3 linked regions of the Homo sapiens genome follow. The protein of the gene in region 2 purifies or fractionates together with the protein of the main gene of each other region. This does not show direct contact. Each region holds a gene or a part of one and is shown on either strand. Other genes may lie near its edges. The genes, in order: CLCC1, AMTN and IL37.

What was found.
Region 1: the proteins of AMTN (region 2) and CLCC1 purify together in Homo sapiens (affinity purification with mass spectrometry; one large-scale study listed by BioGRID and IntAct). This does not show direct contact.
Region 3: the proteins of AMTN (region 2) and IL37 purify together in Homo sapiens (affinity purification with mass spectrometry; one large-scale study listed by BioGRID and IntAct). This does not show direct contact.

What each region holds. Positions count from the first base shown.
Region 1 is NC_000001.11:108,942,922-108,946,578, reverse strand, and holds part of CLCC1 (chloride channel CLIC-like protein 1 isoform 1 precursor), read left to right. Parts: intron 1-2,521; coding exon 2,522-2,743; intron 2,744-2,963; coding exon 2,964-3,104; intron 3,105-3,657. UniProt on the Homo sapiens protein: Anion-selective channel with Ca(2+)-dependent and voltage-independent gating. Permeable to small monovalent anions with selectivity for bromide > chloride > nitrate > fluoride.
Region 2 is NC_000004.12:70,521,534-70,525,190, reverse strand, and holds part of AMTN (amelotin isoform 1 precursor), read right to left. Parts: intron 2,437-3,657; coding exon 2,353-2,436; intron 1,324-2,352; coding exon 1,258-1,323; intron 320-1,257; coding exon 230-319; intron 1-229. UniProt on the Homo sapiens protein: Is a promoter of calcium phosphate mineralization, playing a critical role in the formation of the compact, mineralized, aprismatic enamel surface layer during the maturation stage of amelogenesis.
Region 3 is NC_000002.12:112,914,074-112,916,839, forward strand, and holds part of IL37 (interleukin-37), read left to right. Parts: intron 1-1,119; coding exon of another isoform or gene 1,120-1,186; intron 1,187-2,766. UniProt on the Homo sapiens protein: Immune regulatory cytokine that acts as a suppressor of innate inflammatory and immune responses involved in curbing excessive inflammation.

The sequences.
Region 1 (3,657 bases), on a different chromosome or scaffold from region 2:
AGCACAGTGTAGGCTGGCAAAACTTGCCATATACTCCATCTTCCTGGTACAGTAAGAAGTGACCAAAAGAAAAAGGAGTGTTAGATGAATAACGCCACCTTATTCTGGAAATGTAGAAGCAGATGCGTTCTCATACGTACACTCTGTAATTTGAGCCTTACAGCTACGTACAGGGTGGAACAGAACCTAGATAAGGAAACAGATGGAACCAAAAATACTTAAGATGGAAATGCTGGAAAATATTTAGTTTCTGATTTTTTTTTTTTTTTGAGACAGAGTCTTGCTCTGTCACCCAGGCTGGAGTGCAGTGGCGCAATCTCCGCTCACTGCAAGCTCCGCCTCCCAGGTTTACACCATTCTCCTGCCTCAGCCTCCTGAGTAGCTGGGACTACAGGCACCCGCCACCATGCCCGGCTAATTTTTTGTATTTTCAGTAGAGACAGGGTTTCACCGTGTTAGCCAGGATGGTCTTGATCTCCTGACCTCGTGATCCGCCTGCCTCATGCCTCCCAAAGTGCTGGGATTATAGGCATGAGCCACCGCGCCCGGCCACGTCTGGCTAATATTTTTGTGTTTTCAGTAGAGACAGGATTTCACCATGTTAGCCAGGCTGGTCTCAAACTCCTGACCTCAAGTGATCTGACCGCCTCGGCCTCCCAAAGTGCTGGGATTACAGGTGTGAGCCACCATGTCCCACCTTGTATTTACTGTTTATAAAAGAAAAAGGAATTTTATTTGTATCAACTGGCTAATTAATGCAAAATTTGTTTAGTGATTTTGCTAAGCTGAACTCACACTAATAAAGGTAGTTATAAATATGTAATTTATGGAAACCCATTATTTTGTTGCTCTTTGAGATCCTTCTTGTTTTTCTTGTTTGCACTAATACAGATTTTAGGCTATCTGAAAACTGTCAGGAAATGAAAAGTCATGCAGTGAATCATAAAATGAAGATGCACAGTTGATCCTCATTCTTCACAGATTCCGTATTTATGAATTGACCTCATTAAGTCTGTGTAACCCCAAAGTCAATAATCGAGGTGTTCTGTGGTTACTCTGGGACACAGTGAAGAGTGGTAAAAAATTTGGGTTGCCTGTTGCAGGCATTCCCAGCTGAGATGGAACAAGGCAATCAAAACTGTTTTCTTGTTTCAGCTCTCGTACTGCAAACAAGTGTCTTTTTTTGTGGTCTATTTAGTGGTATATTTTTTCGTGCTTTTTTGAGGGGAGAGGGGTGATTTTTTTTATTTTTATTTTGAGACCAATCATTAAACAGCATCATTTCGTTGTTTAAAACGGCCCTCTGATGTAGTGCTGAGCTGAGGTCTAGTGTTTCTAAGTGCAAGAAGGCCACGATGTACTTACAGAGAAAAGGAAAAGGTGTGTATTAGATAGGCTTCAGTCAAGCGTAAGGTATAGGACAGTTGTCCATGTGTTCAGTGTTAGTGAATGAACAATATGTATTTTAAATAAGGTGTCCTTAAACAGGAATGTACAGAAACACACATAAAACAAGGTTATATATTGATCAATTGATAAAAATGTTATGACAGGTTTGCACGAACCAAACCCTGTATTTATTATAGGAGTAATGGTTCAGTACTTGCTAATTGGTGTTTGAGGTGACTTTATAGAAGATAACTACTGTGAGGCCGGGTGCAGTGGCTCACGCCTGTAATCCCAGCACTTTGGGAGGCCATGGCGGGCGGATCATGAGGTCAGGAGATCGAGACCATCCTGGCTAATGCGGTGAAACCCCGTCTCTACTAAAAATAGAAAAAATTAGCCAGGCGTAGTGGCGGGCACCTGTAGTCCCAGCTACATGGGAGGCTGAGGCAGGAGAATGGCGTGAACCCAGGAGGTGGAGCTTGCAGTGAGCAGAGATTGCGTCACTGCACTCCAGCCTGGGCGACAGAGTGAGACTCCATCTAAAAAAAAAAAAAGACGATAACTACTGCGAATAGCAAGAATCAACTGTATTTTAGTGAAATTTACAGTATCTTTTTTACATAGAGTTCTAGAATTTTTAAATGTTTTTCATGTATATTATCTTTGGTTTTCATGTTGGCCTGTGAAGACAGGTGGATATTATTATTATTTTTTTTTTTTAGAGACAGGGTCTTACTCTGTCTCCCATGCTGGAGTGCAGTGGTATGCTCATAGCTTACTGCAGCCTCGAATCCGGGGCACAGACAATTCTTCTGCCTCAGCCTGCTGAGTAGGCAGGAGCCAGGTGCACACCACTGCACACAGCTAATGGTTAGAATTTTTTGTAGAGATGGGGTCTCGCTTTGTTGCCCAGGCTGGTCTTGAAGTCCTGGCTTCAAGCTATCCTCCCACCTTGGCCTGTCAAAGCACTAGGATTATAGGTGTGAGCTACCTTGCCCAGGCTATTATTCTTATACATATGAAATACTGCAAACTAATATTTAGTTCCAAATTGGCTTTTGTCTTAAAATGGTTCACCAAGTAGTAATAAAATTCTCTTTCTATTGTTTGTTTTTTGGTAAATTTAATTTAGCCTGATGAAAACAAAGGCGATATGCATTATGATGCTGAGATTATCCTTAAAAGAGAAACTTTGTTAGAAATACAGAAGTTTCTCAATGGAGAAGACTGGAAACCAGGTGCCTTGGATGATGCACTAAGTGATATTTTAATTAATTTTAAGTTTCATGATTTTGAAACATGGAAGTGGCGATTCGAAGATTCCTTTGGAGTGGATCCATATAATGTGTTAATGGTAAGATGGGATGAGGGCAAGGGCAACGTCATTAAGTTTCCTTTTTAAAATACTTTCCAAACTCCACCATAATTACGTTAAGAACCTGTACTAGGTCACTTATACCGTATTGATGAACAAGCCACAAAATTGTAGAAATGATTTTGTGCTTTTGAGTCCAGTTCTTTTTAGCTGTCTTAAGTGTTTTTGGTGGCTGATTTCTGCTTCTCTCTGTTTTAAGGTACTTCTTTGTCTGCTCTGCATCGTGGTTTTAGTGGCTACTGAGCTGTGGACATATGTACGTTGGTACACTCAGTTGAGACGTGTTTTAATCATCAGCTTTCTGTTCAGTTTGGGATGGAATTGGATGTATTTATATAAGGTATTATATGGATGGAGGGTTTTACAATTTTAACACATTTATTCACAATGAAAGAAGACTCTAATCCATTGAGAGCAATCTTGCCTTGGATGTGGGTTGGAGGCAGTGATTAGAGGTGGCCCACGCTGGAGAGGAATTAAATGGACACTTCTTAGCTGACAGTTTTTTGATTCCTTGACCAGTTAGTGGGTAAAAAAGTTCAGTCCTAATTTTCATAACCCAGTTAATGTTAACATTTGGGCATCTAAGTCAGAATAAAGCCAGGTGGGTTGGGTGTGGTGGCTCATGCCTGTAATCCCAGCATTTTGGGAGGCTGAGGTGGGCAGATCACTTGGTCAGGAGGTCAAGACTAGCCTGGCCAACATGGTGAAACCCTGTCTCTACTAAAAATACAAAAATTAGCTGGGCCTGGTGACGTGCACCTGTAGTCCCAGCTACTCAGCAGGCTGAGGCAGGAGAATTGCTTGAACCTGAGAGGTTGCAGTGAGCCAAGATTGCGCTGCTGCACTCCAGCCTGGACCACAGAGTGAGGTCTGTCTCAAAAACAAGGAAG
Region 2 (3,657 bases):
ACATATATTCTAGAGAAGTTGTGAGGTAGCATGGTCAGTTCTCTGGGTATGTTTATGAATTTTCATTAAGAACCAGATTGTCAAATACTGGTCTATGTTCAGCAGAACATTCGTCAGTTAATAATCTGGGCAAAATTTTCAAGAAGCTTTAAAAAATTTCTACTGTAGGCTTTCACCTGAGAGAAAATGCTCTCTAATGTTAAAACTAAGGTCCAGCTGTTCAACTTACATGTGGGTGCAGTTGCTGTTGTACATTCAACCCTCCCAGGGTCAATGGGTGGGTCTGGGTACCAGGTGTCATTCCTGCAGCAGGATTTAACTGTAGGGCAAGGAAGAAGACTTTCATTGTATTTTTTTTCAGTTTGGACATTTAGGAAACTAAAATGTTTTTACTAAACGTAAAATATATTTAAAGGAAGGAGTTGCTATGTAAATACATAGTGTTCTATTGCATGTATACTTAGACACAAAGATGAAATTTAAAGACTTATTTAGTCTGCTTGTACGACTACAAGGGCTATTGCTAACTTTTCCCCTGTTAAGTTTTTCTTTGGCATTTAACCTATTCTGTTTGAGAATTACTTAAGTGATTTATTTTTATCTTTGCTTTCCCCTTTTGGCTACAAGAGCAATTCTTCCTGAAAATTTTCTGATAGCTTTTTTACAATTAAGAAATTAACTCCTCTAGGTTATGCGTGAAAATTATGAGGTTCAGACTACATATTTTGTCTGGAACATGAGCTATATTTAAATTTGACCACTAAAAAAATCCACTTTAACTCAGGAAAGAAACTTATTGTTCTTCTCAAACAGATTACACAGATATTCTATGAGAGGGCTGAAGATCTATACAGATATTCTATAAGAAGACACTGAAGATCTTTGTCTCTTCCAGTTTGCTCCTGTCATTGTGGGTGATAATAGCAGTGATAGTGTTTATGTGGATGTGTGGATGCTGTAGGGGCATTAAAGAAGGTATGGTGGAGGAATGGAGAGAGGAGGAGAAGAGGTTAGAGAAACTGGAGAAGGAAAGAATTAGATTAATTTGTTTAGAGACTCTCTTGCTAAGAAAAACGTTTAATGATGTCCAACTCTCTTGGACTCTTCTCTCCTCTCTTTCAACTTATCTATGTGAATAAGTATATGTGTGTTTTCATTTGTGGATATACGCACCCATATACATGCTCCCCCCACTGTAATATTAGGCATTATATTTATTTCACAATGGGTATTAAAATAATATAAACAATCACTTACCAGATGCAGATCTGGCCCCAGTGTGAGCATCTGTGTTAATGGTATCAGACTTAAAGAAGGAAAGACCTGCAGGGGATTGAAAGTGATGTATGAGACAAGAGGTTGTCTGCTTCCCTTACTCTGTCAGTGGTGGATATCCTCATGTAATTGACAGTCCTGTCAGAGGTGGGTTTACCATGAAGGTAAATAAAGATGAAGCCTCGGGGCCTCTCACTAGCATTGCTCCCTTTGTGGCCCTGGGAGGTGCCCTAGCAATGTCTCAAGCTTACGGTACTTATCAGCTTAAGAAAATTTGTGATTTACTGTTATTTCTTATCACATTATAAATATTTATTTCAGTACTTAATTTTACATATCGAATTTTGTATTCTTTTTCTTAAAGAAGGTTCCCAAATTGTATAAGATTCAGATTCCTTAAGCGGGGAGAATGGGTCTTGACTTGAGTGTTCTGTTGACTGAGGAGAAGACTTTAGACTCTAGTGTTATCTGATTATATTACTTCACAAAATGTAGAAGTAGGTAAGCCATGGCCCTTCACAGCAGAGGAAGAGTTGAAGTGGGAGGGAGGGCAGTAGCCAAAAGATAATGCAGTTTTCAAAAGTATTTAAATACGCTTTGAAGAAACAGATTGAACAGCAACACATCAACACATCAGCAACAATGAAACTTTACAAAGCCAGGAGGAAATCTGCAGTTATTTTTTATAGATCATCTCTGATTCCCTGCTATTGCTGGCAAATACTGCATATGATAATGCCACAGTACCTCAAGTCCATAGATGACCAAGCTTTGTAAACAGACGTAGGTATTCCTTTTCAAAGTTGACTAGATTTCACTGCTAAACCAAATTATTATTCAGATAAAAGGAAAAAGAATTAGAGTACTTTACTTTTCCTATTCAAATTTTTCAGAAAATTATATCGGTTCTTTTCCCCACTCCCAAACGAAAAGCCTCTCTCTTGTTCAGTCTTGTACAGTCTTCATGTAAATTTTGATTTTAAACCTACCAGTCTTAACGTGTTTTCTTTACCGGTTTGTACATGTTCCGTATTTTCTTTACCGGTTTGTACATGTTCCATATTGTAGGACTCTTACCTGATTTGACTGCTGTTGGTTTGGTAGTGTTCCCTGATCCGGAGCCAGTTTTGTGGGAGGGAGTCCCAAAGCAGGTTTGAGCTGCTTTTGTGAAAACAAATACATATTTGATGAGGCAGGAATGTGTTTAAGATTTTGTGTCCATTTATATCCAGGTTGCCACCAATGCAAACATGTCTATCTTTTAGGCTTTGTGTATTTTAGAGGAGTTTGATTCCCTGAAACATTATGTGCATGGTAGGACATGTAGAGTGGAAAAATGCCAGCCCAGGAGGGGTGGGATGGTGTGGAGGGAAGGGGGCTGGGATGAACCCAAGCAGATGGGATGTCTTGTGGTGGTTCCTGGCTCCCATTTCTTTTCTGTACCTTTCTTTCTCTTTTGCCAGGACATGAATATATAATCTGTACCTTAGCTCTGTGCACATTTGCTTTTTCTCAGGGCTTGAGGTAAGCTGCCGTCATTCTTACTACCTTTTCATGAAGCTTCCCACTATTGCCATGCCTGCCACATCGGTCTTGTAACAGAAGTTCAGTTTTTCTTCCTGGCCTGGATATTTTATTAGTGTATTAAAAATCACTGAATTTTTAGATATGAAAATATTCCTCCTACACATTTGGTCTAGTTGTATTATTTTTTTCTAATAGATGAGGCAACTGATGCTTACAGTAACTTGCCCAAGGTGACATGGTGAGCAGCAGAGCCAGTGCTAGATCCCTCTAAGTGCTCTTAGTCTCCGAAAAAAAAACTTCTCTTTTGCCAGGTTGACCAAATCTGCTTTTGCTCCTGGAGGCATCCTGGAAGGCACAGGGGTGTGGCCCTCTGGCTCTGCACCAGCCCTTGAGTCATCTAAGGTTACCCTGGAGCAGTTTTGGTTTCACGCTGGAATTTCCCCCTTAGTTATGAGGAGAGGTTGGGGCTGGGCACGGTGGCTCATGCCACCGTGTAATCCCAGCACTTTGGGAGGCCAAGGCGGGCGGACCACTTGAGGTCAGGAGTTCAGGACCAGCCTGGCTAACATGATGAAACTCTGTCTTTACTAAAAATATAAAAATTAGCTGAGCATGGTGGTGCACGCTTATAGTCCCAGCTACTCGGGAGGTTGAGGAAGGAGAATCACTTGAACCCGGGAGCCAGAGGTTGCAGAGTGAGACTCTGTCTCACAAAAAAAAAAAAAAAAAAAAAAAAAAAAAAAAAAAAGAGAGGTTGGTATTATCTGTTCTAGGAGGTCCCTTTCAGCTTTAAGATTATATATACATATATATACATAAAATACATATATATAATATATATAAATTTTGTAAGTA
Region 3 (2,766 bases), on a different chromosome or scaffold from region 2:
AGAGGCACAGGGCAAGGAAGAGTTTGTGCCTGGGAACCTTCCAGGTGCCTCTTCTGACCATAGCCAAGAGACTGGAGACACAGACCTCCTCCCAGCACTGAGGACAAACAGCCATGGGGCCAGTGGGGGTGCAGGGACACCCACACCACTAAGGGCTCAGGGCGGCGCCTTCAGAGCCTGAACCTTCCTCTCATGCTGCCATTTGAACACCACAACACCCTAATAGGAAACTGTTAACATTGCCACTGTTCAGGTGTGGAAACCGAGACAGACAGTGGAGATTCCCTGCCCTAGGTGACACAGGTAATAAGTGACAGATGTGGAAATTTAAAGGTACTATAACGTCTGTCTGCCTGACTCAGGCTTAAGGCTCCCATCACCTCCTCTTCTCAGGACAGAGTCAGGAGGCCTCAGCCTGAGCCCCAGCTCTAGTGCAGGTTCATGTGGGAATACTGAGCCTCACTAGTACAATGGCAGAGAGGACCAAATGGGACCAGGTGTGTAAGGGTGCCTGGCACAGTTGGGGGAGGCTGCTGTCACTTCTCCACCGCTGCTGCTGCAGTTACCTTTGATGTTTTAGTTTTGTTGTAGTTACACCATTGCTGGCTTTGGATCTGCACTGTGTCCACTCCAGGTGGAACCACGCACACAAGCCTCTCTGTCGGGCCTGTCCTGACTTCTCCTTGTCAGGGCTGGGATCTCCTTCAAATCTGGCGGAAGTGGTTCTCCAAGTCTGGTCCTCAAACGTCAGCAGCATCAGCGCCTAGAAGTGTTAGGAATACACATTCCCAGGCCCCACCACAGACCTCCTGCCTCAGAAACTCAGGGCGCTGAGGCTCTAGGGGCTGCTTTAACAAGACTTCCAGGTTATCGTGACGCACCTTGAAAGTCTGAGAGCTACTGCCCTACAGAAAGTTACTAGTGCCCTAAAGCTGGCGCTGGCACTGATGTTACTGCTGCTGTTGGAGTACAACTTCCCTATAGAAAACAACTGCCAGCACCTTAAGACCACTCACACCTTCAGAGTGGCCTTGAGAAAGATTTGGGGTCAAGGATCATGAGCGAGAACACCACTTAAGAGGATAGTGAACTAGTCTGCATGTGAGACGCTGAGATCCTATGTCAGGCTGTGATAGGAGGGAAACAGAAACCAAAGGAAAGAACAGCTTTAAGAAGCGCTTAAGAGGTACAAAGTAAAATGATGGTGCTAGAAAAGTAGCTTCTTAAAAAGAGCATTTTCCAGTCTCACCCTGGACTAACTGAATGAGAATCTCAGGAGTGTGAGGCCCAGGTATCCATGGTCTTAAAATGCCACCCACCAGGTGATTCCCAGTGTGCACCAGGGGTGAGAGTCACAGCCTTAGGCCATGCCACTCAAAGGGTGTCTTCAGACCAGCAGCACCCACAGCTCTGGGAGTGCATCAGAAAGACAGAGGCTTGGCACCACCCACACCTACTGAACCATAGTTTGCAGGTGATTTCTTGCACATTAAAGTGTGGGAAATGGAAAAGCTTAGAGTTCAGCTAGCTCGGTGACTCTCAGTCAACCTGCACCTGCTCCATGAACTCAGACTGCCTGGGATGGGCCCAGAAAAGCTCCTGAGGAGATTCTGATGTAAGGCAGGGCTGATAACCATGGATCTCATCTGACCCCATATCACTGGGGAGTTACTTAGGATCTTGCCTGGGGCCAGTCATCTCTTCCATAGACACTGAGAGTGTCCACGATGCTTGGGGCACTACAGGGTGGGAGGTGGAGGATCACGGGTGAGTCAGATAGGAAGCCTGCTCCTGGGGAGCTTACAGTGCTATAGGGCAGCGAGCCAAGGATGCCAATACCTGTGTGCAGGTACCACTGACGAGTGCAGAGCGCTGCAGCACCAGAGAGGAAGCTACCCTGTGCAGAGGGGGCTGAGGAGGGCTGCAGGGAGATGACAGGAAAGCCGGTGTTACAGGAGGAGTCCTCCCCACTCTTTGGGCATGAGGAGACCAGGAGGACATTCTACAGTGAGAAACCCAGGCAGAGGCCATGTGCTTATGGCATGGGAAAAGAATGACACCTTAGACTTATTCTCTACATTAGAATTGCCTACCACAGATACCCATATTATAGCTTCACATAGTGTGGTGGTTACTGTGTTTTCATATTGTCACATTTGCCATTTTCCAGCCACCCACCCATTCTTGACAGTCACTGGCCCAGCCTGGGGGCCCCTGTTCTTTATCAAACAAGTGCCTGAGCTCTTTGCAGAGGTGAGGGTCACCTGTCCAATCAGAGGCCAGGAGGGAACGTTCCCTTTTAAGACCCTACTCTAGGCAGGCCTGGCCCAAATGAGTTGCTAGGAGCCCACGCCCTAAGAACCCTCTGAGCACTGTTGTGGCTGGTCCTGCTGCTAGAAGTTGTTCCTCCAGGGCCAGGTGCAAGATTTGTGGCTTTTCAAAGGAGCCACTAAAGCTCCAGCTCAGCCTTGCACCGTGCTGGGCTCCTGGGGGCTTCCTGCCTCCAACCCTCCCAACTCTTCCATCACCGCTCCCTTAGCCTGGCCAGTGCAGGGATCTGTTCCACTCTAGGCACTGCTGAGGGAATGATGCCTCCAGTCAGAGGGTGCAAAAAAGAGAGTTAAGAAAAACAATGATTATAAAAAGTCCTTTTTATACGCCAGACATTTTCTTTGCTCAGGCTAAGTGCTACTTATTTGAGTAAGCATTTTAGTTCTCATAACTCCTCTCTCAAGTAGGTGCTGCTATTACTTTCATTTCACAGAT